Regions from separate parts of the Homo sapiens genome. Here region 2 is linked to region 1. The links come from fine-mapping of genetic effects on gene expression. Tissue or cell type: ileum. Region 1 holds a variant in brackets; the other region holds the start of a gene. All regions are shown on one strand. Distances are between the middles of the regions.

What was found. PIP is the estimated chance that this variant, and not a neighbour inherited with it, causes the effect.
Region 2: it holds the start of EMILIN3, and the variant in region 1 is fine-mapped to the expression of EMILIN3 in ileum (GTEx, PIP above 0.99). The same link has a PIP of 0.9 or more in esophagus muscle.

Annotation. Positions count from the first base shown.
Region 1 is chr20:41,389,239-41,397,413 of GRCh38, reverse strand. No RefSeq gene overlaps it. Among named protein-coding and RNA genes, the nearest start is that of EMILIN3, 27 kb to the right of the region's middle. RefSeq lists an enhancer at 5,076-5,741. The variant G/T (reference allele first, on the strand shown) is at 4,303.
Region 2 is chr20:41,362,618-41,370,792 of GRCh38, reverse strand. It overlaps EMILIN3 (elastin microfibril interfacer 3), which reads left to right and starts at 3,975. Exons shown (of 4, transcript NM_052846.2): 1 at 3,975-4,325; 2 at 5,636-5,758; 3 at 6,932-7,155; 4 at 7,739-8,175. The coding sequence starts at 4,159. It also overlaps the pseudogene LOC124904985. RefSeq lists an enhancer at 4,737-5,238.

The sequences.
Region 1 (8,175 bases):
CTATACTCATTCCTTTGTGTATTGTCTATACAAAGCTGCTTTTGGGCTACGACAGCAGTGGTCACAGAGACCACACAGCCTGCAAAGTCGAAAATATTTATTATACTGTCTGATCCTTTGCAGAAAAAGTTTGTCGATCCCCATCCTGCAGCATCAATTTTATTCATAGATTCAATGCAAAAACTCATTTAAAATATTTCATATGGCCAGGCACAGTGGCTCATGCCTGTAATCCCAGCACTTTGGGAGGCCAAGGCGGGCGGATCATCTGAGGTGAGGAGTTCGAGACTAGCCTGGCCAACATGGCAAAAGCCCATCTCTACTAAAAATACAAAAATTAGCCAGGTGTGGTGGCAGGAGCCTGTCATCCCAGCTACTGGGAAGGCTGAAGCAGGAGAATTGCTTGAACCCAGGAGGCAGAGGTTGCAGTGAGCCGAGATGGAACCATTGCACTCCAGCCTGGGCAACAGAGTGAGACTCCATCTCAAAAAATACACACACACACATACATATATATATATATATATATATATTTCATATTAACTCCAACATGGTTTTGTATAAAAATGAATCACATAGTGGAATATAAGATTCATGTCTACTTTTGAGATAAAATGCTTCCAAGAAGCCCTTGGCTTTGGGCATGCTTCTTGAGGGCCAGCCTCCAAACCCGAGGGCATACTTTCACTTTGGAGGAAACACTGGAGTTGCCCTGTCCCCCTCCCCTCTTCACACTGAGTCTTTTTTGTTTGTCTGTTTTTGTTTTTGTTTTTTTGAGACAAAATCTCCCTCTGTCACCCAGGCTGGAGTGCAGTGGTGTGATCACAGCTCACTGTAGCCTCGAACTCCTGGGCTCAAGCGATCCTCCTGCCTCGAGAGTGACTGTCCTGTTCCCCACTGAGATGTCCAGCTGGCTCTCAGAAGCAGGACACTAGGAGAGGCTCAAGAGTCCAGGTCGATGCAGTGCTGTGGCCAGACTGAAGCAGCTTTGCCACGTCACCCTGGTCTCATCTACCATCAGGCCCCTGCTGGCTGTGTGTGCCTGTTCCCCCTCAGGATGACAACCTGGCCTCACCTTTCTCTGTCCCCAGCGCCTTGGGGCTCTTTGAAAATCCTCAGGGACTCCCAAAGCCTGCATAGGGCAGGAGAGCTGGGCCGAGGAAGGTCCACGCTGCACAGGGCAGGCAAGGACTCAGCACTGCTGGGTGTTTAGACTCTTTCCTGGCTCAGACCAAGAAAACTCTAAACTCTGTAGACACAGCTCCCAACCCCCACCCACTCCCCACTCCAGCTCTGACCCAGGCTTTTCCATTCACAGATCCCAGACTTTCCAGACCGGCAAAGAGCCCGGAGGCACAAGGCACCGTGAGTGCCTTGGGCAGGGGTTGGGGGCGGGGCGGTGGATTGTATGAGGCTGAGGAAAGCCCCAGCCGCAGCCCCTTGGGCCTCCCCAGGTAGAAGACACCCCTACCCTCACCCCAGTCCCTTGTCAAATTTCCCCGTCAAGAAGCAGCACATACGTATATAAGGATACTCCTAGTGTTGGTGTGCATCTGAGAGAGAGGGAAGGAGGGAGGGAGGGAGAGCTGGAGGGCGGTGGGGCAGGGGAGCAGGTGTTCCTCCTGGCTAAGCCCCTGCAGCTACTTCCTTTCTTCTCCCAGACAAGTTGAGGATAATTAGCATCCCATGAGGGAAGAAAGAGGCAGCTCCCATCCCTAGACTGAGCGTGGGAGAATTCAGAGCCCCCACCAACTCCACTCCCAGTGCGCAACCCAGCATCCCCAAAACAGGCCCAAGGACAAGGAGTCCACCACCCCCACCCTGTGGGCCCAACCACTCCCAGCCTCTGTAAGGAACAAGAGTTCAAAGAAATAAAACCTCCATCCAAAGAGGTACTTGCTCTGCACAGTCAACCGGGGGGGCACAATGTTCTTGAAACCCTGACCTTTCTTTGGAGTTACTGGTTGTTTCTTGTGTTCTCTGGCTCCTTTTCAAGCTGGGCTGGTCCATGAGTGTCTCTCAGGGACAAGGTACGACAATCGGAAGCAGACAAAAAAAGATTCTCTGCTTGGCTTTTGAGTTTCGGTGCCTGGCCTGGGCACATGCCAGATAAGAGCAAAGCTTCCCAGCTACCATCCCTCCCGCCTGGAAAAAGGTTTCTGAAGGGAAGAGGAAAGGGGTGGTTGGCAGCGGTCAGTGGGGATGGACTGAAGGAACCAGCCTCTTTGAGGGTGTCTCGTCTGTTTCCAGCACCCAGGAGCCCCCTGGAGCCATGTCTGAACCCAGGCTTCTGGGATCCTCTTCCTCAGTTGCCCCACCAGCCTGCCCCTCCCACACGGCTGTGGCATCTCCAGCAGCAGCCCCTGTGTCTCCTGTGACAGACCAGTGAGGGGGGTGCCACCTGTGCCCTGAGCATCCACTTGAGATAGGGTCTTACCCATTGGACTGCCCTCCCATCTTCACCCTAGGGCACCCTTAAGACCCAGTGGAGGCCAGGTACGGTGGCACACACCTGTGATTCCAACACTTTGGGAGGCCGAGTTGGGTGGATCGCTTGAGATTAGGAGTTCGGGACCAGCCTGGCCAACATGGTGAAACCCCGTCTCCACTAAAAATACAAAAATTAGCCAGGCATGGTGGTGCGTGCCTGTAATCCCAGCTACTCAGGAGGCTGAGGCAGGAGAATCACTTGAACGCGGGAGGCGGAGGTTCCAGTGAGCCAAGATTGCACCACTGCACTCCAGCCTGGGCAATAGAGTGAGACTCAGTCTCAAAGAAAAAAAAAAGACTGGGTTGAGCCCCAGTAGGGGAGATAGCAGTACAGAAAGCCCCTCTCTTGTGCCTCAGTGGGACTAGGAGAAACAGCTTGAGGTCCCCTGCACCCCAAGTAAGGCAAGTGCTGGGTAAACCAACCCTGTGCTCAAACACTGACTTTGTGATATGGACTCAGGAGGCCTTGAGCAAAAGGGCCAGCCAGGCTCAGAGCCTGCTACTCTGAAGTCTGGCAGTGGCACCCACCTCCCTGCAGAAGAGGCAGACCCAGGGTTATCCATGGCAGGGTCACCAGGGCCTGGGGCTGCAGGATGCTAGGAAGTGGCTCAGCTCCTGCCTGGTCTGGGGCATCACTCTGGGCCTCTCCCTCCAGTGTGCCCATGGGGAGTTGAGCTGCCTGAGCCCTGGGACCCCTCCGAGCTCTGCCACCCTGGACATGAGACCTTGAGATGCTGTGTCCCCATCTTTGGGGGTGAAGGGTCCATTGACCAAGTTCACCTTCAGGCTGCAGGGCCGTCTCTGGCTGAAGTTCAGCTGACTGATGCTCCCATTTAATCTTGGGGCTTGGAGCAGGGTTCCTGAGCCCCCCAGGCAGAGTTCCCACCTTCCTGTTAGGCTATTCCCCATGAGCCTTTTTATAAAGAGTTTGGCTGGGAGCCAGAGAGTTTTGGAAAGTGTATGGGCCAAGCCAAGCTGTACAAACCTGTCTTCCTCCCAGAGCTGAAAGAGGCCAGGTTGTTCCCAGACAAATGCAGAGGCGGGGCCGGGGGTTGGGAAGAAGAAAGGGGGCTATTTTAGGAGGACTTGCATACTGCAGAGCCCCCACACAGCAGCAGAGGGTGTGGGGAGGCACAGCCAGAGGCAGCAGAGTTAGGGACCTGGTACCAGGTGTCTCATGTAGACACACACATGAAACATATGCATACACCCCCAAACGCATGTGGGCACAGACACAAGTTACACAGATACGTAGGCTTGCGACTGTGTATAAGCATGTGCTGATGTGTACAGAAATATGCACAGGTACATACTAGGCAGTCGCACCTGCAGCTGCAGGGACATGCACAAACATGCTCATACATACAATCACACACCACCACGTACACACACATGCATAGACACTTAGAGATGTACACAAAGGATGCAGATTGAGCAATGCCAGGCTAAACCCAGGAGGCTGGGAGAGGGCTTGCACTCCCTGACAGCCCAACTCCCTGAAACCCAGCACACACGTGCGTGCACACACACACACACACACACACACACACCCTGGGAGGAAACTGCTTCCTCCATAGGAACTTTTGGATCCAGGGCAACATGCAATCAAGACCTTGTACTAGGAAAGAAAGCGCCTTTGTCTGCTGGGACCAGGGCTGCAGGAGCAGCTGCAGCCTCCTCCAGGATAAGAGCCAGGCCAGTTCCTTGCCCTGGGGAGGAAGGTCAGGCCAGGCCCTAGATGGGGGGTGGAAAGAGGGAGCTGGGGGCTCCAGCAGGCCCTGCCACCAATCCCAGGACACTGTGTCTGGCTGG[G/T]GGCACAAAGCCCGGAAAGCCTGTTGTTCTCAGGCCTGGCCTCCCTGACCTCTAACCCTAGTTTGGCCCTGTCTCCAGAACGACTGTGGTTCTGATCCCAGCCCTGGGGCTACACTGACCCAGACTGAGACCTGGCTCGCCTGGGGCTCCATGCCTGCCATGTGCCTGTGACGTCACTTTTTTTAGCGGAGTGAAAAAAAGTCAGGCTCTGGAATTAGAAAGATGTGAAATTGAATCCTGATTTTGTCACTCTCTGAGTGATTTTGAGAATGTACTTGACTTTTTGAGCCCTAAATTCAAACTCCTGTTATACAGAGGCAAATCTTTTTATTTATTTATTTATTTAGAGACAGGGTTTCATTTCTCATTCCATCACCCAGGCTGGAGTGCTTGCCGTAACCAACCTTGAACTCCTGGGCTCAACTGATCCCCTCACCTGAGCCTCCCAAGTAACTAGAACTACAGGTGTGCACCACTCACCTGGCTAATTTTTTTTTAAATGTATCATAGAGATGGGGTCTTGCTGTGTTGCCCAGGTTGGTCTGGAATTCCTGGCCTCAAGCCATCCTCCCCACTTGGCCTCCCAAAGCACTGAGATTATAGGCATGACTCACCACGCCCAGCCCAAATCCTCTTTATTGAGCCCACTGCATACAGCTGCCTTCTCCCTGTGTGCATCTTCTCTTCTGGGCCTGGTGAAGCTGGGTTGGTCCTCTCAGCCCCCAGCACCCCTACCCAGCACCCTCTCCTGCTGCACTGGCCCCAGGGAGGAAAGCAAGACCCAGCCCAGATCTCTAGGGGCTGCCATCTTGGGAGCACCCCTCCTCCCTTGTGCCCTTTTCTCACCCTCTGTGGTCCCAGCCCTGTCCTTGAAGCTGCCCCGTGCCCCTTTGCACTCCTCATCACACTCTGAAGGCCAAAACTTCAGTGAGAACAGCCCTGTTTTTCTAACTCAGGAAAAGGATTTAGCCTTGGAGACCCTGCAGAGGTAACTTAAGCCCCATCCCCAGACACTTCCAGAACTAATTTTAGTCCTTCCATTCAACAGATATTTACCAAAGGCCTACTATGCTATTCTAGATGCTGGAGATTACACGGTGAGCAAATAGGCAAAACTTCCTGCCCTGGGGCTTACATTCAGGCTCCCCATGCCCCATGCTGCGTGGGAGCCTTTAGCCTCACACATTCTCCACATCTGCCCAAGGGCTGCAGTCACTGTGCAAGCGCAGACACACCTCCTCCTTCATGTTGCCACAAAACTTTGGAATGTCACTATCATCACCGTCGCAGCTCTTTCTCCCACTAAGCCGCTCCTGGCTGATGCTAGGAATCTCAAGCGCAGGAATGCGCCTGGTGTGAATGCACTTGAACTATTGAAAGCCATTGAGGCGCGCTCTCTCTCTCTGCCCCGCCACCTCCTGCCCTCATGTAAGATGTGCCTTGCTTCTCCTTGCCTTCCACCATGATTCTAAGGCCTGCTCAGTCATGCAGAACTATGAGTCAATTAAACCTCTTTTGTTTATAAATGTTTTAAAAATGGGCCGGGCGCGGTGGCTCACGCCTGTAATCCCAGCACTTTGGGAGGCTGAGGCGGGCGGATCACGAGGTCAGGAGATTGAGGCCATCCTGGCTAACACGGTAAAACCCCGTTTCTACTAAAAATACAAAAAATTAGCCGGGCGTGGTGGCGGGCGCCTGTAGTCCCAGCTACTCGGGAGGCTGAGGTAGGAGAATGGCGTGAACCCGGGAGGCGGAGCTTGCAGTGAGTCGAGATCGCGCCACTGCACTCCATCCAGCCTGAGCGACAGAGCGAGACTCTGTCTCAAAAATAAAAATAAAAAATAAATAAAATAAATAAATAAATAAATAAATAAATAAAAATGAAAGCCATTGTGGAGTCTGACAGCGGCTTTCAATAGTTCAAGTGCATTCACGTACCACTGTGCCTTAGCGTAGGTCTTCTGATCTTACAGTAACTTGGCATCTTTTAACTATGATGCAGTTATGATAAATTATTGCATCATAATTGAATTATACATAATTATTTCTCTTAATTGCATCATAGTTAAATAACTTGCCCTTATTTTAAATAAAAGCATGCTGTTTTAGGAAATAAATCAGTCATGCACAATGGCTCATGCCTATAATCCCAGCACTTTGGGAGGCTCAGGCAGGAGGACCTCTTGAGGCCAGGAGCTTGAGACCAGCCTTAATAACATAGCAAGGCCCCATCTCTACAAAAAATAAAAAATTAGCCGGGCACAATGGCACATACCTGTAGTCTCAGCTACTTAGGGGGCTGAGGTGATAAGATTGCTTGAGCCCGGGAGTTCAAGGCTGTAGTGAGCCATGATCATGCCACTGCACTCCAGTCTGAGTGACTGAGCAAGACCCTGTCTCAAAAAATATAAAAGAAATGGACTGAACCTGAAGCTCAACTAGTGTCAGTTCAGTTGCCCTGCTCTGTCACTCACAGTACGATGCATTTGTTCATGAAATATTAATTGAGCACTTGCTCTTTGCCGGACCTGGAGAAGGGGAAAGGGGTCCCTGGAGCTCCCTGTCTAGAGTGAGCCAGTGAGCAGAAAATGACAATGCTGTATAGTAAGTGCTGAATAGACTGATGGGCAGTTGCCATAGGAGCCCAAGGGGAGTTCCTTGGGGGCAGTGGGGGCAGATGGATTAAAGACAGTTTTGCAGAACAGGGGATATTTGAGCTGAGCCTTGAAGGAGCAGTTGGATTTTTTTTCAGGTAGAGATGAAAGAGAGTGAGCCAAGCAGAAGGACCAGCATTTGCAAAAGTCATGGAAACAGGGAAATGCCTGATGTGTGAGGAAGATGGCAAAATGTTAAATGTCCCAGGCAGGGAGGTCAGGCTGGCTGGGGAAGTGACTGGCACCAGATAAGACTGTGAATGCCAGGGAGAGTGGGGAACCCCTGCCACATGGAGGTCACCCAACCCTGGCCCTGGAGCTGTCCCCCTGAGCTGTCCACCCCCATCCTGAAAACTCCGTTCAGCCCCTCCCCTCCTACCTTCCTCCTGCCCTTAGAAACCCTGATTTCACTGTGGTCAAATTCCCCCCCATTCTTGGCTTAGGGAAAACAATTATGAGGCAGGAATTCTTGTAAGAGCTTTTTCTATATTAAAATGCTTGATCCTCTGTTAAATATTGTTTGTCTTTTTTTTCACAGTTTGACCTTATTTTATTATGTTTTGTTAGAAAGAAGCCTCCCATTATTATGTCATGAAATCTATCAGTCTGTTCATATGATGTCTTCTTAGGAAGTTGTCCCCTATCCTAAAATTGTGTAAGTATTCGGATTCTTTTATGGTTTACCTTCTAGCATTTAAATCTTTAAGCCATCTGCAGTATATTTAGATTTAAGGTAGAAATCTAACTTTTTTCCAAATTGTTAGCCAGTTGTCCAGTCCCACATCTTAAGTAATCCATCATTTCTGCCCTGTTTTTTTTTTTTTTTTCAAATTTTCAATTCCCCCCTCTCCTCGATTTTTAAAGTTATACATGCTATCCAGAAAAAAGAAGAGGAACGAGCAGGAGGGGGATGAGAAGTGTGGAAATGTATGGCTAAGGAAGTAAAAGCCCTCCCCTTTTACCTCCCTGAGGTAGAGGCAATAACTGTTCATCATTTGTTATAGATCCTATTATTATTCGTGTTATAACACTTACTAGGTTTCTCTTAAGTGCAGAAATATTCAAAAGAGAAAACCCAAAAGGGATCAAAACCTCTGGAACATATTTTGGCATAAAAACATGTTGGCTTCTCAGGTGAAGGAGGTTGCAGTGAACTGAGATCACGCCACTGCACTCCAGCCTGGGCAACAGAGTGAGACCCTGTCTCAAAAAAAAAAAA
Region 2 (8,175 bases), 27 kb after region 1:
GAATTGCTTGAACCTGGGAGGCAGAGGTTGCAGTGAGCCGAGATCACGCCACTGCACTCCAGCCTGGGCAACAGAGTGAGACTCCGTAAAAAAAAAAAAAGAAAAGAAAAAAAAGAAAAGAACAGAAAAGAAAGGCAGGATGCATAGGGCTCACCCCTGCAGTCCCAATACTTTGGGAGGCCAAAGCAGGAGGATCACTTGAGGCCAGGAGTCTGAGACTAGCCTAGGCAGCATAGTGAGACCCCATCTGTACGAAAGGAAAAACTCATGCACATGCATGATAGTGGTATGGGGGATGGGTTGGGTGTGGTTGTGCATGTCCCTGTGAACTGAAACTGCACTCCCACTCCCGTGTATGGCCCGTTTCCATCCAGGTGTAGAAACTCCAGTCTGAGTCAGAGGAACATGACTGCCTCCTTTCCTCCTCTGCTTCTGGCCTCCCTAGGTTTCCTGTCTGGCAGATGCAAAGTGGCCTCATCGTCTATGGGGGGACCCCCGCTCTGGCCTGATCCAGCCAAGACCCTGAGCATCTCCCTGTACTGAGGTCCTCCACCCCCACTAGAATGGGGCCCAGATCCTGGATCCCAAAACTGTTGCAGTGAAAGAGGGAGCATGGTGTTTGATGTCAGCCACCTGGGAAAGGGGGAAGTGGGGTCCAGCTATCCTTTTAGCCCCTATGACGTGGATATTTCCAAGCTCAAACAGGGTCCAGCCTCTTCCTTGTGAGTTTTGGGCCCCACATCTGGGGCTGGGGAAGGGAGTGAGAGGAAGGGGTGGGACCACTTGGAAAAAGATCACAGCCTCTGGGGTGGGGGAGTTCCTCCCAGAGCCAGGCTGGGCAATGCTGCCAGGCAGTCAGCACCCAGCCTAGGATGAGGAGCTGGCTCAGATGTTTCTCACTTCCTAAAAAGCGCAAAGTCAGTGGTTACAAGATCAAGAGCTTGTTGGGGATATGGTGTATCTTGCCCTCAGCAAAATGGTTCATAACATCTCTCTTAGAGGTTGGAGCATATAATAGCACATTCGGTGCTTTTATAGGGAGAGTGAAAGGCTGTCTTAGGGACCATGTGGTTGCTGTAAGACTATACTTTCAGGGATCATTTCTACAGTTCATGACTAGAGAAGTTTCTCTCTGTAGAGCACATTTGGTTGCTGGGATCAGAAACCCATTCAAGCTAGCTCCAATGGTGGACTACTGGAAGCAGATAGGGAAGTCACAGCTTGTCCCCAGATGGTTACTCACCACATAGCCCCTGACTCTGCCCCTCTCTCCCCTGACCACACTCTTTCTCCCTTTCCCATGATTCCCCCAGAGCTCTCGTGGTCTCTCCTATCATTACCAGCCAAGTGCCCCTGTAGTGGATTGAATTGTGCCCCTCCCAAAATTCATGAACATTTGGAACCTCAGAATGTGACCTTATTTGGAAATAGGGTCTTTGTAGACGTAATCATTTGAGATGAGGTTATGTTGGGCTGTACATCCAATGACTGGTGTCCTTATAAGAAGAGGAGGCTGGGCTGGGTGCAGTGGCTCACGCCTAGAATCCTAGCAATTTGGGAGACTGAGGTGAGAGCATCACTTGAGCTCAGGAGTTTGTGACCAGCTTGGGCAACAAAGTGAGAGCCCATCTCTACAGAAATTTTAAAAATGAGCTGTGCATGGTGGTGCACAACTGTGGTCCCAGCTACAGAGGAGGTGGGGGCAGGAGGATCACTTGAGCTCAGGAGGTCGACGCTGCATTCCAGCCTGGGTGATGGAGCTAGACCTTGTCTCTATTTATTTATTTATTTATGGAGATGGAGTTTCGCTCTTGTCACCCAGGCTGGAGTGCAATGGCATGATCTCGGCTCATTGCAACCTCCACCTCCAGGGTTCAAGTGATTCTCTTGCCTCAGCCTCCCAGGTAGCTGGGATTACAGGCGCCCGCCACCACGCCCGGCTAATTTTTTTATTTTTAGTAGAGATGGGGTTTCACCATATTGGCCAGGCTGGTCTCAAACTCCTGACCTCAGGTGATCCCCCCACCTCGGCCTCCCAAAGTGCTGGGATTACAGGCATGAGCCATCGCGCCCAGCCCTGTCTCAAATTTAAAAACACAACCAGAAAGGCAGGGCGCGGTGGCTCACGCCTGTAATCCTAGCACTTTGGGAGGCCGAGGCGGACGGATCACGAGATCAGGAGATCGAGACCATCCTGGCTAACACGGTGAAACCACGTCTCTACTAAAAAAAAAAAAAAAATACAAAAAAATTAGCTGGGCATTATGGCGGGCGCCTGTAGTCCCAGCCACTCGGGAGGCTGAGGCAGGAGAATGGCGTGAACCCGGGAGGCAGAGCTTGCAGTGAGCCGAGATCGCGCCACTGCACTCCAGCCTGGGCGACAGAGCGAGACTCTGGCTCAAAAAACAAAAACAGAAAGAAGAGGAAAGGACACAGATCACAGTCACAGAGAAAAAAAGGTCACCTGAAGAGGGATATGCGGAGGGAAAGTAGAGGCTGGAGTGATGCTGCTACAAAGAATCCTTGACCAAAGAACGCCAGAGATTGCCAGGAACCACCAGTGGCTGGAAGAGGCAAGGAAGGCTTCTCCCCAGAGCCACTGGAGGGGGCATTGCCCTGCTGGCCCATGGATTTTGGAGTTAGCCTCCAGAAATGTGCAAGAATACATTTCTGTGTGTTAAGCCACTGAGTCTGTGGCTGTTACCACAGCCCTGAGAAACTCACACAACCTACACCTGGAAGCTGGATTCCTTCAGCTTCTGTGTTCTGATTCCAAAGCCTGGGGGAAAGCAGGATGGGCCTAGCTGGGGTCAGATGTCCGCCCCACAGAACCCAAAAGCCACTAAAGCTAAGGGCAGGAAATAGATGTGGGTTTCGGAGCTGCCCCTTCCAGTATCCTTGATAACCATCACCCTATCCAAAAGGCATTAATTCATATCTCAAGGTCAATTTGGAGGGAGGTCTCTCCAAGCAAGCCCCAGAGTTCTGTACACCTATCAGCTCCTGGGGCAAAGACACAGACGGCTGTAGCCACCGGTGTGGATGAGACAAGGCCAGGAAAGTACCGCTCTGATGACAGAATCAGAAGGACTCTGTGCAGGTTAGAGAGTTAGCAAGGTGATACTGAATGAGGACGACGATAAAACCCAACTCTTGGGTTCCAAGAGTCAACTTCACAAGCAAAATGTGGACGACGCCTGGCTTCACCGCGGCAGTGCCTTGTGAGAAAGACCTGAGGATTTTCTCTGACCAGCCGGCTTAGAGCTTCAGTTGCACGAAAAGCACAGCACTTTTGGCTGGGCTGGGGCGGTGATAGGCCTTTCGGGCTCGGTGCAACCCATACCTAAGACAGAGAGGCAACACAGGCGCCTCCAGAGAACCAGAGGTGCAACCGGGCCACCAGGCTACGTGGCAGAGGTTGCGGGGTAAGGGGGAGGTGGGATGCCTGGGGAGAGGTCAGCGGAGTTATCAAACTAAGGTTCCCGGGCAATGATGGGGCCAGGAGGCAGAGCGAGCAAACGGGGATGATCTGGGGTCTATTCCAAAGAGGTGGCGGGGGAGGTGGTGCTGCTGTGCCCCCAGTCACGGCCATCTCGGCTCCAGAGCCCTGGAGAGCAGTTCCCGGGTTCACACGGACTCTGAAGACAAGCGTATCCTGAGGGTGGACGACTCCTGGAAAGTCCACGCCCAGGCTGGCCTCAGGGGTCCGCTTCTCTGCGTCTCGCCCCGTGCCCGCAGGCGACAGAGTGGCTGGTGTGCTCGGGGGGCCTCCCAGGGCGCGGCGGCCTGCGCCCCTGCCACCTGGGGCTGCTCCCTTTGGAACCTCCTGTTCGCAGGCGGCTCCTCGGCCGTCCGCTCGGAGCTGGGGCGAGGGGCTGGCGGCGGCGAGCGGCGCGGCCCCAAGTTTATGCTAATCCGCAAAGAGCCCGCCTCCCGCCTCCCCTCCGCGGCCCCAGCCGCTAGCAGCGCCGGCCACTCCGCGGGACGCAGCCGCCGCGAAGCGCCAGGCGGCCGGGCCAGCGAGCTCGGGGGCCGAAGGGGACCCCGGGACCCTCGGGGCGGGACCCGGGCCGACCAGCGGCGGGGGCGGCGCGGCGCTGCAGGCGGACACCCGGCGGGGGGCACCGCGCGGGGCCGGGCAGAGGCGCGGGGGCCGCTATGGGCCGCCGCCGCCTGCTCGTCTGGCTGTGCGCCGTCGCGGCGCTGCTCTCGGGGGCGCAGGCCAGGGGCACCCCGCTCCTGGCGCGGCCTGCGCCGCCCGGTGCCTCCCGCTACAGTCTCTACACGACGGGATGGCGCCCGCGGCTGCGCCCGGGGCCGCACAAGTAAGCGCGGGCGGGCGGCGGGCGGGAAGAGGGAGGGATGGGCCCGCGCGCGTCGCCGCTCCCACCTGCCCGCACCCGCGGGGGGCGTCGAGGCCCCGGGCACCCCGAGGCCGCTGCACAGAGGGGGCGGCGCCCGGGGCCGAGCCCCTGCCCAGGCGAGCGCCCTACGCTCCGGGAGGTTGCGGGGCTGGCGAGGAAAAAGGAACCGAGGGGGCCTGGCGCGGCGGCTTGGGATCCTGGCAGTGCCAGCGGAAACCTTTCCAGCGAAGTAACATTTTCCAGCTGCGCTGTGTGCAGACTCCGGGCGAGCGGACCAGGTGGAGGGAGAGGAGGAAAGGCGGTCCGCGCGCTGAGCACGCGGGGCTCCCCCGCCCCGGGCCTCCCTTCTCTCCCCTGGCCCGGCCAGGTAGGAGATAGAGCTGCGCATCCGGGCGGCCGCTGCCCTCTCGCAGTCAGCCTGGCCCCAGCAACCCCATGGGAGCCCCAGCGTGGCCGGGCTGCAGAGCCAGAGCGGGCTCCTGGCTCCGGGCCTGTGCTGTGGCACAGCCGTCCACAGCGGTCGGCTTATGCCAGGCAGCCACCTCCTCAGCCCTTGTGGCTCATCAAGGAGCCTGCTTTCCCCGCCTCAGCTTCTGGTGTTTCGTGGGCAGTGGCTTGCGAACTGGCCTCAGTTAAGTGGGCTGGAGGCTCTGCCTGGGGTGCTGGCTGAACTTGAATTCTAGCTGAATTTGAGAGCTGTTGTAGGAGGAAGAGTACCGACACTCAGTGGGCCTGGGTACATCACAGCGAGCCTCCTGGAGGAGGTGGTACAAGAACTGCTCTGAGAGTAAGGGAACAGGACCAAAGGCAGGGGCTGCAAAACTACGAGGAGAGGTGGATTTCCCCGGGAGCCAGGCAGGGAGGAAGGACAAGACATGGTGCTCTCAAAGGAGTCACTGAGTGGGGACTCGGAAGCCTTAAATGCCAAGATAAGGAGTTTGGAATCAGCGAAGGATGGGGGGGTGTGGCAGGGCACTTGAGGGAGAATCCGGGCTGGCCTCTTCCCCACGCAGGGAGGGGCAGCCACATCAGGCTCCTGGTTCCAAATAGTGCTTAGCCCAGGGGCCACCCATCACGGAGGCTGGAATCAGAGACCAGCAGCGGGGCTGGACCCCAGACCAAGGGCGTTGGCTCCCAGGGACACAGAGAACAGACAGAAGAGACATGGGAGTTTGGAGTCCTGCTGAGGCCCACAGATGGAGGTGGGAGGGTAGGCGCCTCTGTGGGCCTCGCTCAGCCAGATATTCCAGGGGTGCCATTTTCTCCTGTAGGGCCCTCTGTGCCTATGTGGTGCACAGGAATGTGACCTGCATCCTACAGGAGGGAGCGGAGAGCTACGTAAAGGCTGAATACCGGCAGTGTAGATGGGGGCCCAAGTGCCCCGGGACAGTCACGTAAGTGCACTCCTCACCTACACACTTGGAATCCCCTGGCACAAGCGCCAGTCCTGCCTTCAGCTGAGAGCAGCTGCCAACTCCACAAGGGGCTTCTTGGACTCCAGAGAGCCCACCTGAGCCCCCATACAGGCCAGAGTAGAAGGCGGCCCCAGAAAAGAGGGTGCCAAGGAGGACCCCAGGGATTTGGGCTTGCAGCAGAGCATCACCCGCACAGACAGGGGCAGGCTTGGGTTGGAGCCCAGGAACCACAGAGGGACAAGGGGAAGGTTCTGGGGGCAGAGGCAGCACAAGGCTAGGAGGAAGTGACAGAGGCAGAAGGTGAGGGGAGAGGAGGGAGCAGAGGGCCCCTTAGGCAACGGGTGATGCCACAGGGGGGCCTGGCAGGCCCAGGGAGGACTGTGGTGACCACAAGGAGGCAGGCCATGGGGCAGGGAGAGGAAGCCGGAGCAGCAGGGCTGCACGCACATGGGATGCACAGCTCTGTACCTGGAGAGGTTCACGTGTGTGTGTGGAAACAAACCTGTTGTCTCCGGTGTGTCAGTGGGTGAACAGGTACGTGGCTGAACAGTGAGGGCATGGACCCTCGCGAGCCTGCCTGTACCCTGGACCTTCCCTTCCCTGCTCACAATCAGAGGTACCCGTCCATCTGCCTCTCTGACCAGAGCCGAGGTCCCGGAGCAGGCTAGAGAGGAGTGGAAAGAACTAAGGGGAGCAGGTAGGAGCCAAGAGTGGCCCCCAGGGCAGTGAGGGGGCTGCCAGCGCCAGCTCCAGGGCAGTGCCCCTCCCTGCCCACAGGGAGGGCTGGGGCTGTGTCTGATTCTCCCAGGTGCTACTGCAGCCTGAGTGGAATTTCTCATGGCAGCCTGAGCTAGAGGGGGTCCAAGTGGTCTTGGGAGGGATGGGGCAAAATTCCTGCTTCTCTCCAAGCTACCAGGATGGGTGGGACTTCTACCTGCATCCTTCCCTAACATGACTGTGAGCTTCAGGAAGGCCTGCCCTTACCCACCCCTGTCACCTTAAGCACAGAAAAAGTACAGCCCTGGGGGTGCTATGGAGGTGGGGAGATACCCAGCCTTATGCAAGTGTCTGAGGGCGGCCCTGAGTGCCAGCTAGGGGGAGAAGCACAGCCCTCAGGTGCAGGATCCCACTCTCTTGCCCTCCCTGGCCCAGGTACCGCACAGTACTCAGACCCAAATACAAGGTTGGCTACAAGACAGTGACAGACCTCGCCTGGCGTTGCTGTCCCGGCTTCACTGGGAAACGCTGCCCTGAGCACCTCACGGACCATGGGGCTGCCTCACCCCAGCTGGAGCCTGAGCCTCAGATTCCTTCAGGGCAGCTGGACCCAGGCCCCAGGCCCCCTTCCTACAGCAGAGCAGCCCCCAGCCCTCATGGTGAGTCTGCCCAAGGAGACCCTCCAAGGTGATTGGGTTTCTTGGGCTCAGTGGCAGGGGCAGGGAGGGGACTGATCCCAGGCTGGCTGAGCTCCGGCATGGATGGGGAGGGGCAAGCCCCAAGCCCCACTTTCACCCCACCATAAAGCTGAGGGAGTTATGCCCAGTGAGAAGGTAGGCTTAGAACAGAAAGTCTGGGCTGGGCGCGGTGGCTCATGCCTGTAATCCCAGCACTTTGGGAGGCCGAGGCGGGTGGATCACGAGGTTAGGAGATCGAGACCATCCTGGCTAACATCGTGAAACCCCATCTCTACTAAAGATAGAAAAAAAATAGCCGGGCGTGGTGGTGGGTGCCTGTAGTCCCAGCTGCTTGGGAGGCTGAGGCAGGAGAATGGCATGAACCCGGAAGGCGGAGCTTGCAGTGAGCCAAGAGCACACCACTGCACTCCAGCCTGGGCGACTGAGCAAGACTCTGTCTCAAAAAAAAAAAAAAAGAACAGAAAGTCTCTTGGGTGGCCTGGCATTGTGACAAGCTGAGAGGGTGAGGCCAGTGATGCCCCTGGGGCTCTCTTCTCTTTCCCAGGAAGGAAAGGCCCAGGGCTGTTTGGTGAGCGGCTGGAACGCCTGGAGGGTGATGTCCAGCGCCTGGCTCAAACATATGGTACCCTCAGTGGCCTGGTGGCTAGCCACGAGGATCCCAACAGGATGACTGGTGGCCCCAGGGCTCCTGCTGTCCCTGTGGGCTTTGGGGTCATCCCTGAGGGGCTTGTGGGCCCAGGAGACAGAGCCAGAGGGCCACTAACACCTCCCTTAGACGAGATCCTAAGCAAGGTGACAGAGGTGAGCAACACTCTTCAGACCAAGGTGCAGCTTCTAGACAAGGTGCATGGGCTGGCACTTGGCCATGAGGCCCACCTGCAGCGGCTGCGGGAAGCCCCACCATCCCCGCTCACCTCCCTGGCCCTGCTGGAGGAGTACGTGGACCGACGGCTGCACCGACTCTGGGGGAGCCTGCTGGAT